Regions from separate parts of the Homo sapiens genome. Here region 1 is linked to region 2. Evidence: fine-mapped expression QTL. A gene starts in region 2. The other region holds a variant in brackets. All regions are shown on one strand. Distances are from middle to middle.

The links.
Region 1: its variant is fine-mapped to the expression of CCDC59 in whole blood (INTERVAL, PIP above 0.99).

What each region holds. Positions count from the first base shown.
Region 1 is chr12:81,843,912-81,852,259 of GRCh38, reverse strand. No RefSeq gene overlaps it. Among named protein-coding and RNA genes, the nearest start is that of PPFIA2, 89 kb to the right of the region's middle. The variant G/TG (reference allele first, on the strand shown) is at 3,840.
Region 2 is chr12:82,354,411-82,362,758 of GRCh38, reverse strand. CCDC59 (coiled-coil domain containing 59) reads left to right here and starts at 4,372. Exons shown (of 4, transcript NM_014167.5): 1 at 4,372-4,536; 2 at 5,490-5,799; 3 at 8,165-8,264. The coding sequence starts at 4,383. METTL25 (methyltransferase like 25) reads right to left here and starts at 4,230. Exons shown (of 12, transcript NM_032230.3): 1 at 3,935-4,230. The coding sequence starts at 4,193. RefSeq lists enhancers at 3,442-4,002, 3,933-4,492, 4,003-4,563.

The sequences.
Region 1 (8,348 bases), 510 kb after region 2:
AATATATCATTGTAAGGCGTTAGATTTTTTCTGAGGAACTAATCAGAGCTTGAAAATCAATCTGCTTGATTTTGGAATCCGGCTTTCCTACTGCTACTTAATTGTTGTATACCTTAGTTTCCTATCTATGAAATGGAGCTAACAATAGCACCTGTCTCATAATTATTGTTAAGAATTGAGTGAGCCGGTGTATATAAACCTGTTGTCATGGTGCTTGTGACATAAAATAGTTCAATTAGTGTTCAGTGTGTTAACACATTTTAAGACAAAATTGCAAGTATGGTAGAAGTAATTGCTTGTCTTTAAAATAATTTTTACAAGTTAATGAGGAAAAAAATAACATGATGAACGGGAAATAGGCAAACAAAAGAGGAAATATCATTAGTACTTAAATGTATAATTTTAAAAATTCTATTTCAGTTGCACAATGATACTAATGCAAAATAAAGGAAAATGAAAAATCATGTTCTATGCATCCATTAAATAAGATATAGTGAATAATATTTATATGGGAAAATGTGATATACAGTGGCTTATCCTTTATTGATGGTGACTTTGTAATTGTACAACTGTATTGGATATACATTAGGCAATCTGTATCAACAGCTATTTTAGGTTAATTATCTTTGATCAGTAATACCAATACTGTGAATCTTGTGTAATGAAATAACACCAGTATGAAAACAAATTCACAAATAGACTCTAATAAAGAAATTCTTACATAATTAATAGTTTATTTACATAAGAATATTGTATACAATTCAAAACTAAGCACTATAAAATTTACATTAAAAAGGAAGATACTTTTTTTTAAGTTGAAAAAAGGGATAGATATTGTAAGTATGGAAAAAAGGACAAAAGAAATCTTAAATTGAGGAACAGCATCACATCACAGTGTATTAAACTGGTAGCATTTTGAGTGACTTCATTTATTGTTCTTTCTCTCTTCTGTAAAATGATTATAATATTTTTGTAATTTCAAAAATTGCTTAAAATATACATTATACCATATGAATGATATTAAATAAGTTGGTAATTATGTACATTCGTTTGTAATGGAAAGTCATATTGAGAATACACTGTGGCAGACCAAATGAGAAATATAACCAGAATTGTCTGAAAATTAATTTTTTAAGCCTCAAAAACAAACACAGGTTAAAAGCACAGTTCTTGTCCTGTATTTAGGTATAAATTGTTATAAACTGAAATTATTAAGAAATACAGGACCATCACATGAGTTTGAAGTTTGAAGTAGAGGGATTAGACAGGAACAACAAGGTATATGTCTATATATACCTTACATATATATATATGTGTGTGTGTGTATATATATATATATATATATAAAGTATTTCATATATGAACAATAAATAATGTGAAATTATATGTTATTGTTTGGGAATTCTATAATGAAATAATTGCTACCTTCATCTAGAGTGTATCACAAATCAGGCGTTATATTCCACCTAAATTTTAAAGCTTTAAAGCACAGTATCTTTTAAATAAACTTTTGGGACATATAAGGGGAATGATTAAGCTCAATTTAGGAGTTCAGATGATACTTCTAACAGAAGTTGATGTCTTAGCCAAAACTTGAAGGATGAGGAAAATTTGCCAAACCAAAAATGCTGAGGCAAATAATACAGCATTATAATAGAGAAGAGATATTGGAGAAAGAAATATCAGTGTATTTGGAAAGAGATGAAGCAGTTCAGTATTATTAAAATGTAAATTACCAGGCAGGGATATTAAGAGAAGAAAACAGAAAAATAACCAGGTCATGGGAAACCATGTATGAAATATTTAGAAATATAAGCTCAATAGTTCTTGCCTCACTTTGGGTCACAGACCTCTGATTACCTGATGACAGTAATTAACTCTTTTCCCCTTAACATTGTATACATAAATAAATGCACTCAATTATTTTGCATACAATTGTAGGGAGTTCACTGAACACCTGAAATCTGTTAATTGACTCCCTGAATCCCGTGACAGGTGAAAAACGAAACAAACTATAACAGAAAAATAAAAAACTGGTCTCATTAATGAGGCAACAATTATGACAGAAAAAGGAGCTATGATTTCAGTAAATCTTTCTTGTTTCAATTTTGGAAATATATTCCAACTGAACCCACCACTTCCCATTTCCAATACCCCCACCCAAACGGAAGCCACTGTTTAGCTATCTGCTTATTTCACTGTTTCCATTCTGCCCTCCCATAATCTGTTATTTGTATTGTAGCCAAAGTGATACATCTAAAAAGGATATCAAATAATGGTACCCACTGATTAAGACTCTAATGGCATTTGTTTTTGCGCTTAGATTAAACCCATAGTAAGTACTATGTCCCCAAACTCTTGTGCTCTGGCCTGGGTCAACTCCCAACCTTACTTGGAACCATGCTCTCCTGCTGTATCTACTTTCTAGCTTATTGGATTCTTCCGCCCCTTCAGCTACCTGGATTTGTTCCCAACTCAGGTCTTTGCATCTGCTTTTTCCTCTGCCCCAAATGCTTCCCCCAACTTTCTCATTCATTCCCTATCATTAAAATTCCAACTCAAGTGTTTACTCCTGTGACAGGAATTCCTTGAAAACCCAGCAAAACTCTGCTACCTTTAAGTTACTATTTCAATAATCTATTTTTATATCAATTACTAATAGCTGATATGTCATGATTGTTCAATTATGTACCTAGTGACTCTTCTGTCTTTCTCTACTTGCATCCCCCTAAGTATAATTTAACTGTTTTTCTTCTCAACATCCTTAAATGCTCCGCACATAGTAGGTAGTCAATAGATGTTAGATAAGTCAATTTCTCTGAATAATTGTGACTCTTAACTATTCAGTATTTAGATCTAAGTAAAAAGAAATATTAGATTGCATATATGTCCTGAACAAACGTGTTAAGTGAATGCATTATATCTTTTAGCAATTATTTTATGCTGACATTTCTGAGAACAAGAAACCTTTGCAATAGATATGGTTCCTATAAAGACTTAAGCAATTTTATCTTAAAGTTTGCAATTTCTGTACATCTAAAGGGAACTAAAATTATCTGTATTTTTCTTATCTGGGTCCTCTGCCAAATTTTTTTCCTGCTTATTTGAAGTATAAAACAAACATTGCTGAAAATTCTATCGACACTGCTACCTATTGTGAATAATACTGCAATACTATATAGTCCGTCTCAAGTATTAGAAACTAATAAAATAAAAATTCAAAATTGTACTAATTTTTAAATGTTAAAAGAATATTTATAATGTCACTTCTATTTTCTTAAAACCGTTATTTAATACAAGTAGGATGATCATATGTTTTGGTTTGCCTGTGACAGCCCTAATTAATGTCTGTCCTAATTACTCATACTTTCATTCTCAAAGTATTTCAAAATAGATGACAAATTCTATGCTCTCTATAATTACGGGTAATATTAACTTCCATATTATTTCATATAATATTATCTGTTAAATGGTGAACAGGATAATAATAATTTATTCTATACGCTCCTGCAGAGATTAAGTGATTTAGTGTATTTAATGTGCTTGCAAAGATACCTGGCATATAATGCATATGAAATAAATATTAGCTACCATTATCTAGTTCAGATGGAAAGGACAGACTAGCAGAAGCTGCCCATTTATGTGGAAGAGCAAGCATTGAATGAATTCAGAATCACTGCTCCATCAAAGGTATCTTTTCCTATTTAGTTACATTTTATTTTCTCCCGATATTTTCATGTTTCCTGGTTTTCTTCTGTAAATTGAAGCCAGATAAACACTCAGGCCCCGTGTAGTTCTTTAAAATTATTGCTTTCCTCATAGGTTTTTTTTTTTTTTTT[G/TG]TATTTGACTACGTTAGGAACAGGCTATGCTGAATAAAATAATATGAGAAAACAGCATGCAGACATTAGTTGGTCAGGAACACAATTTTCTCTTCATGTTGGGAAAGAATTGGATTTTGGAATATGCAAGAACGGGAAGACTAAGATAATCTGATTGCATGTATCATGCATTAACTACCCTAACTCTTCTAGATATCTAGTTTTATAATATAATTTGTTTTCTTATATAAATCAGTTTCAGATGTAATAGACTCACACTGAAACACCAAAAGGCTGTATTATTCATGCATTCATGAACATTGACTTGCATTTTATGATAAGAAGTGTTTTGGGATTGCTTTCTTTGTGATCTTCAAGACATTAAGGCAATATTTAAGGACTACAACTCTGTTGTTGTTCTTTAAGGGACACATGATTTTATCTCTGTAACTTATATATGAAGATTTCAGTCATATTAAATTTGAAGTTGTTTAATTTTCCAGAAAACATTTCTAGTAGAAACAATTGGTCAGGAGCCCCTCATTTACAAATATGCCTGTGTGGAAGTTTATAATTTATTTTTGAATGTTAAATTACCAAAGTATTTGTAACTTAGTTATTTTAGTTAATTTAAATTAATGTTATAATTAATTTTTACTTAATTTTTAAATTAATTTTTACTTATAAATTAATTATGAAAATCTTTGGAAAATAGTGTTGATTTATATTTGCTTTTTATTAAACTGTACTGATAACCATTGATCCTTGGTTTACGTTGCCATTTAGGTTTAAATATATTCTTCCATAAGCAGATCATTTTGGGAAATCTACAGAACCATGTTAATCCTTGACAGAAAACAGAGGAAGCTTCCCTAACTCCCAAATTTGACTCAGGAAAAAAGAAAATTTTACTACTTATTTTTAGTTCACATTTCCTCAGATAATTGTCTTTCATGAGTATATTCATGAGAAATGTTTTAATATTATTTTATTTAATTTTTAAATTGTTTTATTTATTTTTTATTGTGTATATTATGTGCAATGTGATGTTTCAGTATAGGTCTATGTTGTTGAATGATTAAATCAAGCTAATTAACATATCCATTAACTCACATACTTATTATTTTTTGTAATGAGAACATTTGAAGTCTACTCACTTAGCAATTTTTAAGTATACAATATGTTTTGTTAATTATACTCATCGTAATGGACAACAGATGTCCAGAACTTATTCCTCCTGTCTGACTGAAACTTTGTACACTTTGACCAACATCTCCTCATCCCCTCTGTTTGGCCCCCATCCCCAGGTAACCACCATCCTACTCTCTGCTTCTATGAATTCACATTTTTTAGTTTCCATGTATATGTGAGATCATACAGTATTTATTTTTCTGTGTCTGGCATATTTCACTGAGCATAAAGTCCTCCAGTTTCATTCACCTTGTCACAAATGACAGAATTTCCTTCTTTTCTAAGACTGAATAGTATTCTATTGTGTGTATATACTCATTTTCTTTGTTTATTCATTCACTGATGGACACTTAGTTTGATTCGTATCTTGGCTATTGTAAATAATGTTGCAATGAACGTGGGAGTGCAGATGTCTCATCAACACGCTAATTTCAACTCCTTTTTGTATATACCTTAAAGTTAGATTGTTGGATTATATAGTAGTTCTAGTTTAAAATTTTTAAGAAACTTACCTTCTGTTTCCCAAATTGGCTGTACTAATTTTCATTTCCACCAACAGTATATAAGTGTTCTTTTTCTGCATCCTCACCAACATTTGTTTTTTCTTGTGCCAACTATGCATTGAACAAAGGTCTAATGTCTAGAATCTGTAAAGAACTTAAACAGTTCAGCAAGCAGAAAACTAAATAACCTCATTAAAAAGTGAATAAAGAATATGAACAGCCACTTCTCAAAAGAAGACATACAAGTGGCCAATAAACATGAAAAAATGCTCGACATCACTAATCATCAGAGAAATGCAAATCAAAAACACAACAAGATACCATCTTGCACCAGTCAAAATGGCTATTATTTAAAAATATTCACAATAGCAAAGACATGGAATCAACCTAAATGCCTATCAATGGTAAACTGGATAAAGAATATGTGATACTTATACACCATGAAATACTATGCGGCCATAAGAAAGAATGAGACCACATCTTTTGCAGCAACATGGATGGAGCTGGAGGCCATTATCCTAAGTGAACTAACATAGGAACAGAAAAGCAAATACTGCATGTTCTCACTTAGAAGTGGGAGCTAAAATTTGTTCTCAAATGGAAATGATGTAGGTAACAATAGACACTGGGGCCTTCTTGAGGGTGGAGGGTGGGAGGAGGATGAGGATTGAAAAACTATCTATCGGGTACTATGCTTATTACCTAGGTGACAAAACAATCTGTACACAAAACTCCTGAGACATGCAATTTACCTATAAAACAAACCTGTGCATGCATTTTTTTTTTTAAAAAAGAGAGTAAATAGAAATTTTTAAGACCATTGCCTTAAAGATGTTACAATTTTTTTTTAATTGGGAGGTCATCAGGCTGAGATGACTCCAACACTTTGGGTTCCTATATAAGCAATCCAAAAGCCCAATGTAAACAGTAAAACAAAACTAAAGACTTTGCCAATCAGAAACCACCAACTAACCTCTACCTAGAGAATTTCCACTCTAATAAATCAAATATATTTTCTTAAAAGCACATTGCCCACACTGTTGCAGCAGAGCTCTGTGAACTTCTTTTGATTTTGAATGCTGCCCAATTTTTGAATTCTTTTTGCTCAGATAAACTCTTTAATATTTGAAATAAATAAATAAATAATAAAAACTTTAATAGCAGATGTTGGAGAGGTTATAAAGAAAAGTGAAGGCTTATATACTGTTTGTAGAAATGTAAATTAGTTCAGCCACTGTGGAAAGCAGTTTGGATATTTCTCAAATAACTTAAAACAGAGCTACTATTTGACTCAGCAATCCCAGTACTGGATATATACCCATAGGAAAATAAGTTGTTCTACCAAAAAGACACATATATTCGTGTGTTCTTCACAGCACTATTCACATGGAAGAGACATAGAATCAGCCTACCTGCCTATCAACCGTGGATTGGATAAAGAAAAAGTGGTACATATACACCATGGAATACTACACAGCCATAAAAAAGAATGAAATCATGTCCTTTGCAGCAACATGGATGCAGCTGGAGACCATTATCCTAAGCAAATTAACACAAGAATAGAAAAATAAATACCACATGCTCTCACTTATAAGTGGGAGGAAAATATTGAATACATATGGATATAAAGATGGGAACAATTGACATTGAGGACTACTAGAGGGGGGAAGTAAGGTGGAGGATGAGGGCTCAAAAAGCACCTATTGGGTAATATTATTTTTTAACTTATAAAAAGTGTCAAGGAGCAAATACAGTGCACTTAAATATTTCATTATTGTGCAAAAATACATTCTTATTTTAGTCAAATTCATCATCTGTTTCAGTGGCTTGGATTTTATAATACTTCCCACAGAATAAAACAGAAAGTAAAGATAATTTGCCATTTAATTAGTTGTGAAATACACAGAAATCCTATATGATTTTAAAGAGTTGGAGAATGATGGCTTGTGAAGGGGGTTTGTTTCTGTATAAAACAACAATCTGATGACTGATATTGTGGAAATGACTGAGAACATGTTAACCAAGTCAAAAAGAATTTCTAAGAAATAATATTTCTGATATAGTCTGTCAAAGAGTAATTTTTACACTAGATTATATTTATACATCCAATACAATTCATAGCTTATTGATTATTGAATGGATTACTAAATATAGCACTACCAGTTTATCAAATTCACAGCTGGGCTATTTTAGTTATTGACTCCCTTCAACATTAAAGAAGGCTGGAAAACAATTGCTGAACCTCTATACATTCATTTTTACTGCATTGTCTGAGACCAGTATACAAAGTTGCTATAAGCTGGTTTTAAGACAGTTACTATTTTGGATCATTCATGTATTCATGTATTAAATAAATACCTTGATAAATATAAAAGAAGCAGGCACTTATTGTGAAAAACTTTGGAAGTTCATTATTGACAGAATAACATGTTTACTTCAGATAATATAAAATACTTTTTGAATCAAATAGCATGTTCATATTATGGGCTTAACAAGTTGGATTTAGTGTTTATACTCTTATCAAGTTGATTGACATTTCTTTTAGCTTCTTATAGAAGGAACTGATTGTTAACAGAACTAGTAAATATCAACAAATAGTTCCCAGTAAAAGCATTACTTATAAATTGCTAACATTTACTAAGATTTTACTGTCAGTGAGGCTATGTGTTAAAATGTTCTTCACAACAATTCTAGGTCAGTTGTTAGTATATGGTAAACTAAGGTAGCAAATGGCGCAAAAACAATGACTCAATTATATAGTCAAAGGGGATTATTCCTGTTTGGTAGGCAGCTTTCCTTCATGGAGAGAAAGCATGCTCTTCTTAACAATCTTAAT
Region 2 (8,348 bases):
CTTCCCTTAATTTCCTTCACCTTTCTTACCTTCTCTTCTCCACACAGAAACCAGGTGATTTGAAACATAAATCACACGGTATCACATCACCACACAAAATTCTCAAAGAGCTTCGCATTTCACTCAGAATAAAAGCCAAATACTGAGTACAGCCTACAAGTTTTATGTGAGGATGTCCTGGGCTACCTCCAAATGCCATCTCTCACCGGTCTCACCAAGACTGCTCAGCTGTGTTTAAAATGCACCAAGCGTGCTCCAGCTTGGGCACCTGCTGTTCACTTCACGTGAAAGATATCCCTTTCTATATATTAGCTGAATTACCTTTCACAGTATCCCATCAGGCAGGTACTAAAGTTACCCCCATTTTACAGATGAGGAACTAATGTACAACGAGTTGAAGTAAATTGCCCAAGTTAGCACAGCTACTAAGTGCTGGAGTCAATATTTGACCCCAGGAAGTCTGTCTGGAAAGCCATAATTTATGCACTGAAAAGATAGTTATTTCTAACATATTTGCTTTTTATTTTAGAGAATTAAATATTTTATTCTAGTTCTTTTTAGACGAACAATGAAGAAGAAACTCTTAGGACTCTAATGAGACAAGAAGATCACCTGGCACATGAAACCTACTGAAATGGACACACTGAGGACTTTTAGAAAAAACTTTGTTCCATAAAACACCAAATGATTGTGCCGAACATCTGTTAGTGTGCTTTTCCAAACTGTGCATTGCGCTCTGGGAATTATGTTTACTTGTAACTCCTCACAAAATATCAGCAGAAGACTGAGAGGTGACAGCGTGCCGGCAGCCCTCACTCGCTCTTGGCGCCTCCTCAGCCTTGGCGCCCACTCTGGCCACGCTTGAGGAGTCCTTCAGCCCACCACTGCACTGTGGGAGCCCTTCTCTAGGCTGGCCGAGGCTGGAGCTGGCTCTCTCAGCTTGCAGGGAGGTGTGGAGGGAGAGGCACGGGTGGGAACCAGGGCTGCGCGCCACGCTTGCTGGCCAGCGCGAGTTCCGGGTGGTTGTGGGCTTGGCAGGCCCAGCACTCAGAGCAGCCGGCCAGCACCGCTGGCCCCAGGCAGTGAGGAGCTTAGCACCCAGGACAGCAGCTGCGGAGGATGCACCAAGTCCCCCAGCAGTGCCGGCCCACCAGCGCTGCTCTTGAATTCTCACCGGGCCTCAGCTGCCTCCCTGCGGGGCAGGGCTCAAGACCTGCAGCCCGCCATGCCTGAGTCCCCCTCCCCCCCACCGTGGGCTCCTGCGTAGCCCAAGCCTCCCCAACGAGCACCGCCTCCTGCTTCACAGTGCCTGGTCCCATCGACCGCCCAAGGGCTGAGGAGTGCGGGCGCACGGCATGGGACTGGTGGGCAGCTCCACCTGCAGCCCCAACGTGGGATCCACTAGGTGAAGCCAGCTGGGCTCCTGAGTCTAGTGGGGACTTGGATAAACTTTATGTCTAGCTAAGGGATTGTAAATACACCAATCAGCACCCTGTGTCTAGCTCAAGGTTTGTAAATGCACCAATCAGTGCTCTGTGTATAGCTGATCTAGTGGGGACTAGGAGAACTTTCATGTCTAGCTCAGGGATTGTAAATGCACCAATCAGCACCCTGTCAAAATGGACCAATCAGCTCTCTGTAAAATGGACCAATCGGCAGGATGTGGGTGGGGTCAGATAAGAGAATAAAAGCAGACTGCTGGCGCCAGCAGCGACAACCCTGTGGAAGCTTTGTTCTTTCACTCCTTGTGATAAATCTTGCTGCTGCTCTCTCTTTGGGTCCACACTGCGTTTGTGAGCTGTAACACTCACCGCAAAGGTCTGCAGCTTCACTCCTGAAGCCAGCGAGACCACGAACCCGCCAGAAGGAAGAAACTCCGAACACATCCAAACATCAGAAGGAACAAACTCTGGACACGCCGCCTTTAAGAACTATAATACTCACTGAGAGGGTCTGTGGCTTCATTCTTGAAGTCAGTGAGACCAAGAACCTAACAATTCCGGACACAAGACCATACTCCTTGTGAGTCCCTAGTGGAAATCTATTTCAGTCTCCTTACAGCTCCTTAAACATACCTTGTAGGCTCCCTCGTCAGGGCATTTCTGTTTCCTGTTGTCACTAAATGGACTGCTTTCCCTCCAGAGATCTTCATGGCTCGGTTTTTTTCTTATCTTTTCAGCGTTAGAGTCACCTCAGTGAGGTCTTGCCAGGACAACTTACTTAAAAATGCAAACATTTTCCTCTTCTTCCCCTTACTTACTCCTCCCTTATCTAGTATACTTTTTTTCTTACAGCACTAAAAAAGTTTCAAATCAGATGACCCAGGTTTGAGAATCTTCCATTATCAGCTATATCCCTTGCAAATTAACTCCTCAAGTTATAATTCCACAAATCGACAATAACAGAACCTATCTTGCAAGGCTGATGTAAAGATTAAAAGAGAAAATACACATGAAGACACTTAGCACACTACAGGGTATATAGTAAATATCAAATAATCCAATTATTATTAGAATATGTAAGACAATCTGACTCTACCATTGTCTGGAGACCAGGCTAAACACGTATTAAAGTCTTACACTCTAAACTTGAGAGTAGTTTCATTTTATTTATTTAAAACTAACATGAGTAACTCATTAATTCCTCCATTCAACAAATATTCATCCAGTATCTAATGTATGCCAAGTATTTTACCAAGTGCTGGGAATACATCAGTTGACAAGTCAGACAAAGACTCTGCTCTTTTGGAGTTTAAGTAAAATTGTCATATCATAAGTGCCATATATTTATTATGAGAGCAAACTGAAGAAGTGCCTAACTTTTCAATAACAATTACTTAAAAAAACAACAACAGTATTTACCAAGTGCTATTATAAGAGGTCCCTCTAGTGATGCTTTGCATTCAGAGAATGCTCAATGAATAAAGTTCACTAGTAAGGGTAACTTTGGGAAGTCTAGAAGGAAAGTAAAAATCCCAGAAGCCTGTTGGTGTCCATCATTCTACTTCCAAAATATGCTTGCCTGAGAAGAATCTACATTTCTTGAGGGTAGGAAAAGCTTGAGCCTACAAAAATTCAAGACACATATTAGGTACTTTAAAATAGTTTTTAAATGAAATAGTGACTATCCGAATACCATCCTAGTCCAAGATACAATCATCTGTTGTACTACTGAGGTAGTCTCCTAACTGGCCTCTCAGCTTCAGCTTTTGCCCTAGTCTATTCTTCAAATAATTCACAGTTATCTTTTCAAATGTGAATTAGGTCACTATGTTGCCTAAATAATCCCAAGGGTTTCCGTCACACTTAAAATCCAAAATCCTTCCAAGGCCTAGAAAGGCCTGTGCCATCTGGCCTCTGCTTGCCTCCCGTCCTGCACCTGCAGCCCCTCACCTGGCTAGAGCCAAGCCTAGCCTGCGGTTCCCACCGCCTGCAACCCCTCCCTGTGGCTCTGCAGCTAGTGCCTTCTCATGTTCCTGACCTCCTAAATTGAGGCAGCCTCCTTACACAATCCCTACCACATTACACTGTTTTTATTTTCTACTTCATTACCACCACTTGAAATTATCTTTATTAACTGTTGAGTAATCTTCCACCACATGCTGGCATTTATAAAACCTGTGAGAGCACTGCTCCCCTAGTTTCCCTAGCGTCAATTATTATGGAATTACTAGATGAAGGAACTCCCCTGCCCTGTTTCCTGCTTTCTTTAAATTGTGGACATACACAAGCACCCAAAGAAAGAGTGATCCTGATTCCAAAGAACATCCCCACCCCACCCCTCAACTAATCCGACCCCTCCTCGGTTTCCCAGCGGGCCGCCCCGCCTCCGCCGCCACGCACCTGGTTCTGCTGGCTTCCACCAGGGGGCTCGCTTCGTCTGCCGGGACCTTCTCCTCCGCCTCCCTTCCCGCCCCGCCTACCCCACCACCCACCTGCTTCCCACTCTGCTTCCACTAGGGGGCGCGTCTCTGAGGGCAGGGCCTCCGTCTCCGACGCTGACTTCCTCAGCGCAGCCAGCACTGTCTCCGGTGGCAAGTCGACCAGCTCCTCCCACACGGATTCTGTGTAGAAATCCACGGTATGTGCATTGGAAATGGACAGGGCATCCCTCAGGAACTGCAGCAGTCCCTGCAACTTGGCACGCAGCGTGGGCAGGTCCGGGGTCACCGGGAGAGGGCAAGAAGCCGCCATGACGCTCACCCTCCGAGGCTGTAGGTGGCGCAAACATGGCCGTGAGGCGCCAGCTCGGCCCAAATTAGCACAGGCAGGCTCAGTAGAGCTCCGAGCCGGATTCCTTCTGAGCGATTGATTGCTTCGGCTTGGTGACGTATTTTGTGGGCGTCCGTCGTGGTCTTCTGATGACGCAGTTAGTCGGCTGCAATGGCGCCGGTGAGGCGGTCCGCGAAGTGGCGGCCTGGTGGTATTGAGGCGCGTGGTGAAGGGGTTTCCACTGTCGGGTACAGGAATAAGAATGTGAGACAGAAGACATGGCGGCCTAACCACCCGCAAGCCTTCGTGGGGAGCGTTCGCGAGGGTATGTAAGAAGGCAACCATTTGCAAATCCTCAGGCTTGCTAAGTTTTAGGATATAAGATTCGCTGAAGCTTGGAAGAAGGATTTAGGAACCAGACCCGGTCCTACTTGGGGCAAGGGAATTCATTCCTGAGCCCGCTAAAGCTGTGAGCTTCGCAGAGCTCTAGATAGGAAGACGGAGCAGTGTTGCTATTATTTAAACGTCTTTTCTGACGTAACCCTGTATTTCATCAGAACTTTTTTCCTATATTTTTCCTGAGAAACTGAGCAGAGAGAGTCTATGACCCTGTGAACTCTTGCGCATGTGGTAAGGTAAAGGATAGAGAGGAGGACAGGGCCAGAAACACTGCTCCGAATTCTTCCTTATTACAAATACCCGAGGCCCTCCAGCCTTCGCTTTAATTTGTGTTTGTCATTTTGTATTGCTGTCTGTAAGGTCTCTTAGATCCCACTTGGAATATATAAATGTTAAATTCAGTCTTCCGATAATTGCTAGCTTTTCAGACAACCATACACTGTCTTTTTCTTTCGTGTTGAAACATTTTCGAAAACATGTAGTTTGTCCAAGATACTAGATGTGGCATTTTCTTTCCTATTTTTTAAGCATTTATTGAAGGCTCAGATTAAGTGTTTTAGATGAACTAAGGAATTTGTTTTGATTTGTGAATACAGCTGTAAACTCAAGTTGTGCAACAGTCTGAACTGGTCAGTTTTTCTTTGAGATTCTTACTTGGATTTCCGCATGACTGTTAGCCTGGTCTTTTTGCAAAGGGCCAACTTACTATGCAATCCATCAGCTTAAATTTGTTGCTTGAAATAATTTTTTAAAGCAAAATATAATACTAGAATCTGAATGTGATGACGTAAAAAAAGTTTTCATTTGTAATTAACAGCTCCATTCTTCGTTCAACTTCTTTTCTCTGAAAGTAATTTTGGATGATATTCCTCAATGTAGGACAAGGCTTTGCTTTTCGAAGAAAACTGAAAATACAGCAAAGTTACAAGAAATTGCTACGGAAGGAAAAGAAGGCTCAAACGTCACTGGAATCTCAATTCACAGATCGATACCCAGATAATCTGAAACATCTCTATTTAGCTGAAGAGGAAAGACATAGGAAGCAAGCAAGAAAAGTCGACCATCCTTTGTCAGAACAAGTTCACCAGCCGTTGCTTGAAGAACAGTGTAGCATTGACGAGCCTTTATTTGAAGATCAGTGTAGCTTTGACCAGCCTCAGCCAGAAGAACAATGTATTAAAACAGTAAAGTATGTATTTTCTTCATTTGAAATCCTTTAAGTGTTGTTTTATTATTTAAAAGTACTATAGGATAATTTATATAGGAATTGTATTTTTTCTTATTTAACACATTTTAGAAGTCACGGTTTAATTAGGGAAACATTTTCATGGAGGCTCTATTTTTAGCTTCAATAACTGAATTAGGCTGGTTTAGCCTAATTGACAAAGTAACGTAATGGGAATTAAGAGCTCTGGAATTTGGGTTTCTTCCTCTCAAGTACAGGTGGTAACTTGATTGGACCATATGTTATGACTATATTTTTGAAAAATAACTTCTGAGAGGTGTTATAATTTTAGTCATTAACAGTATGGGTTCTAGAGCCAGACTCAACATGTTAGTGCCCCAGTGACCTCTTCTTTAAAATGGGAAAAATAACACTATGTCCTCTTTAAATTGGGAAAGATAATACTGTAATGAATATATACTTCAGAGCTGCCATGTTGCACAGCTCCAGAATGGATTACTCACATAAACTCAGGTGTTCCTAAGGTGTTTCATGACATTGTTGTGAAGACTCAGCGAGTTAATGTATATGAGGATCTTAAAGGGTATATATGGTACGTGGTTAGTGCTCTTGAGCGTTAGCTACTACTATTAATCTGGATTTTCTGCAGAGGACCAGAAATGGGTTGCAATTGCAAATGCACAGCTCCGTGACGCTTTGGTTTTATAAGAGTTAACTTATAAAAAACTATCGCTGCATACTTAAAGTTAAAAAACAATGCTAAAATCTAAAATTGCAAGAAGCTGGGTATTAACTTGGGAGCATAATTTTTTACTTCATTAAAACCGTATCTTTTAAAGTCGTGAGCTATTTGCGCTAAAAATAACAGGAAATGGGACCACGGGGGGTAAAAATGTAATTGGGGATGAAGGCAGAGACACAAAAAGTTTACTACTTTTGGTAGGCTTGATCATTATATTGTTAAATAATCAGTATAAAGTTCAGGGAAAAGATTAGCAGTAGAAATGTAGATTTGAGTTATTCTCTGATAATTGAAGTAAGGAAGTTTAAATCATGAGAAAGGAAGGTAAAAAATCATGCTTTTAAAGATTACGGTTTATTTTGGGGTGGAAACAGGGAAAATATTGTCATTGAGGAAGTTAAGCTTTTCAGGACTGGAGAAAGAGAAATACAGTGACAGCTCAGTCCACAGAGAAAAGTTGTGAGGGATTAGTCAGCTATCAAATATTGTGGTCCCCCGTTATCTGTTTGGAAGATGTTCCAAGACCCCCAGTGGATGCCCTGAAACTGCAAATGGTACCAAACCCAGTTTCTGTCAATTGGAATGTATTTCTGTTAATGTCTTTTACTTGGGAATTTAATGCCTTTTCCATCTTAAATCACGTACTGTGGCCATAACTTTTGCAGTTTGAAGTATGACAGCAAAACTAGCATGAATTTATTTTTCCTTCACAATTTGATGTATAGAAGATTTTTTTTAAAACCATAGATCTTAGCAACTTCAACATACGATTTTTTTTCCTTCCTTATTAAGTCAAGAACTTTTACCTTTTCACTTAAAGCAAACACTCAGTGTGGTGTACAATTTAAAACATATGAATTGTTTATTTCTGGAATTTTTCAATTTAATATTTTTGGACCTCTGTTGACTGCAGGTAACTGAAACCGTGGAACAGGGAAACCATGGATAAGGGGTGTGCTACTGTACTATAAAGTTGAAGGTGAATAGGACTGAGGACAGGTCTCTGGATTTGTGGACTAGGCAGTCACTAGTCACTAGTCCAAAGTCGCTAGTGATTAGTAGCTATTAAAATATTATATTGTAGTTACAGAGTATAGTGAAAAGTTGAATGATAGAGGAAAGTAAAGTTATTACTGAATCAAGGATGCTGAGGAAATGAATGGAATTCCAAGTAGTTGGATTAGCCTTGACAAAAAGGACATCTTCAGAGAGGTGAGAAGTAGTTAAAGATAGAACAGTTCAAAATGGTATCTAGATCCAAGGTATGGTGATTCATGACTAGGTAGGTAAAATGGAATAGAGAGGAGGGGCTCAGAAAACTTCGAGATTAAAGTTCATATATACACATAATTTTCTTAACATCCTTAAACAACAAGTTTAATTCTTTTTTCAGTCTGGCATTTCTATCATTCATATACTGGTTTCATTACTTTTAAAAGTTTTTTTTTTTAACATTTTAGGATTTTTCATAGCTTTCTATATTTTTTCCTAGTTGAAATATTTCTCTAAGAATCCCCATTTGTGCCTTTTATTTAATATATACTCTTAAAAGCTACAACTGTGTTTTTAATACCTTTTTGGACATTTTACTAATAAAGTCCTGTTTCCTCATCCCCCAATTAAAAGCTCCTTTACAATTCCAAAGAAAAATAAAAAGAAAACATCAAATCAAAAAGCACAAGAAGAATATGAACAGATACAAGCCAAACGTGCTGCTAAGAAACAAGTAAGTTCTACTTTGAAAATATTTAGTATAGTTTTTCTTATTTATCCTAAATATATATACTATACCTGTTGTGCTTCTTGGTGC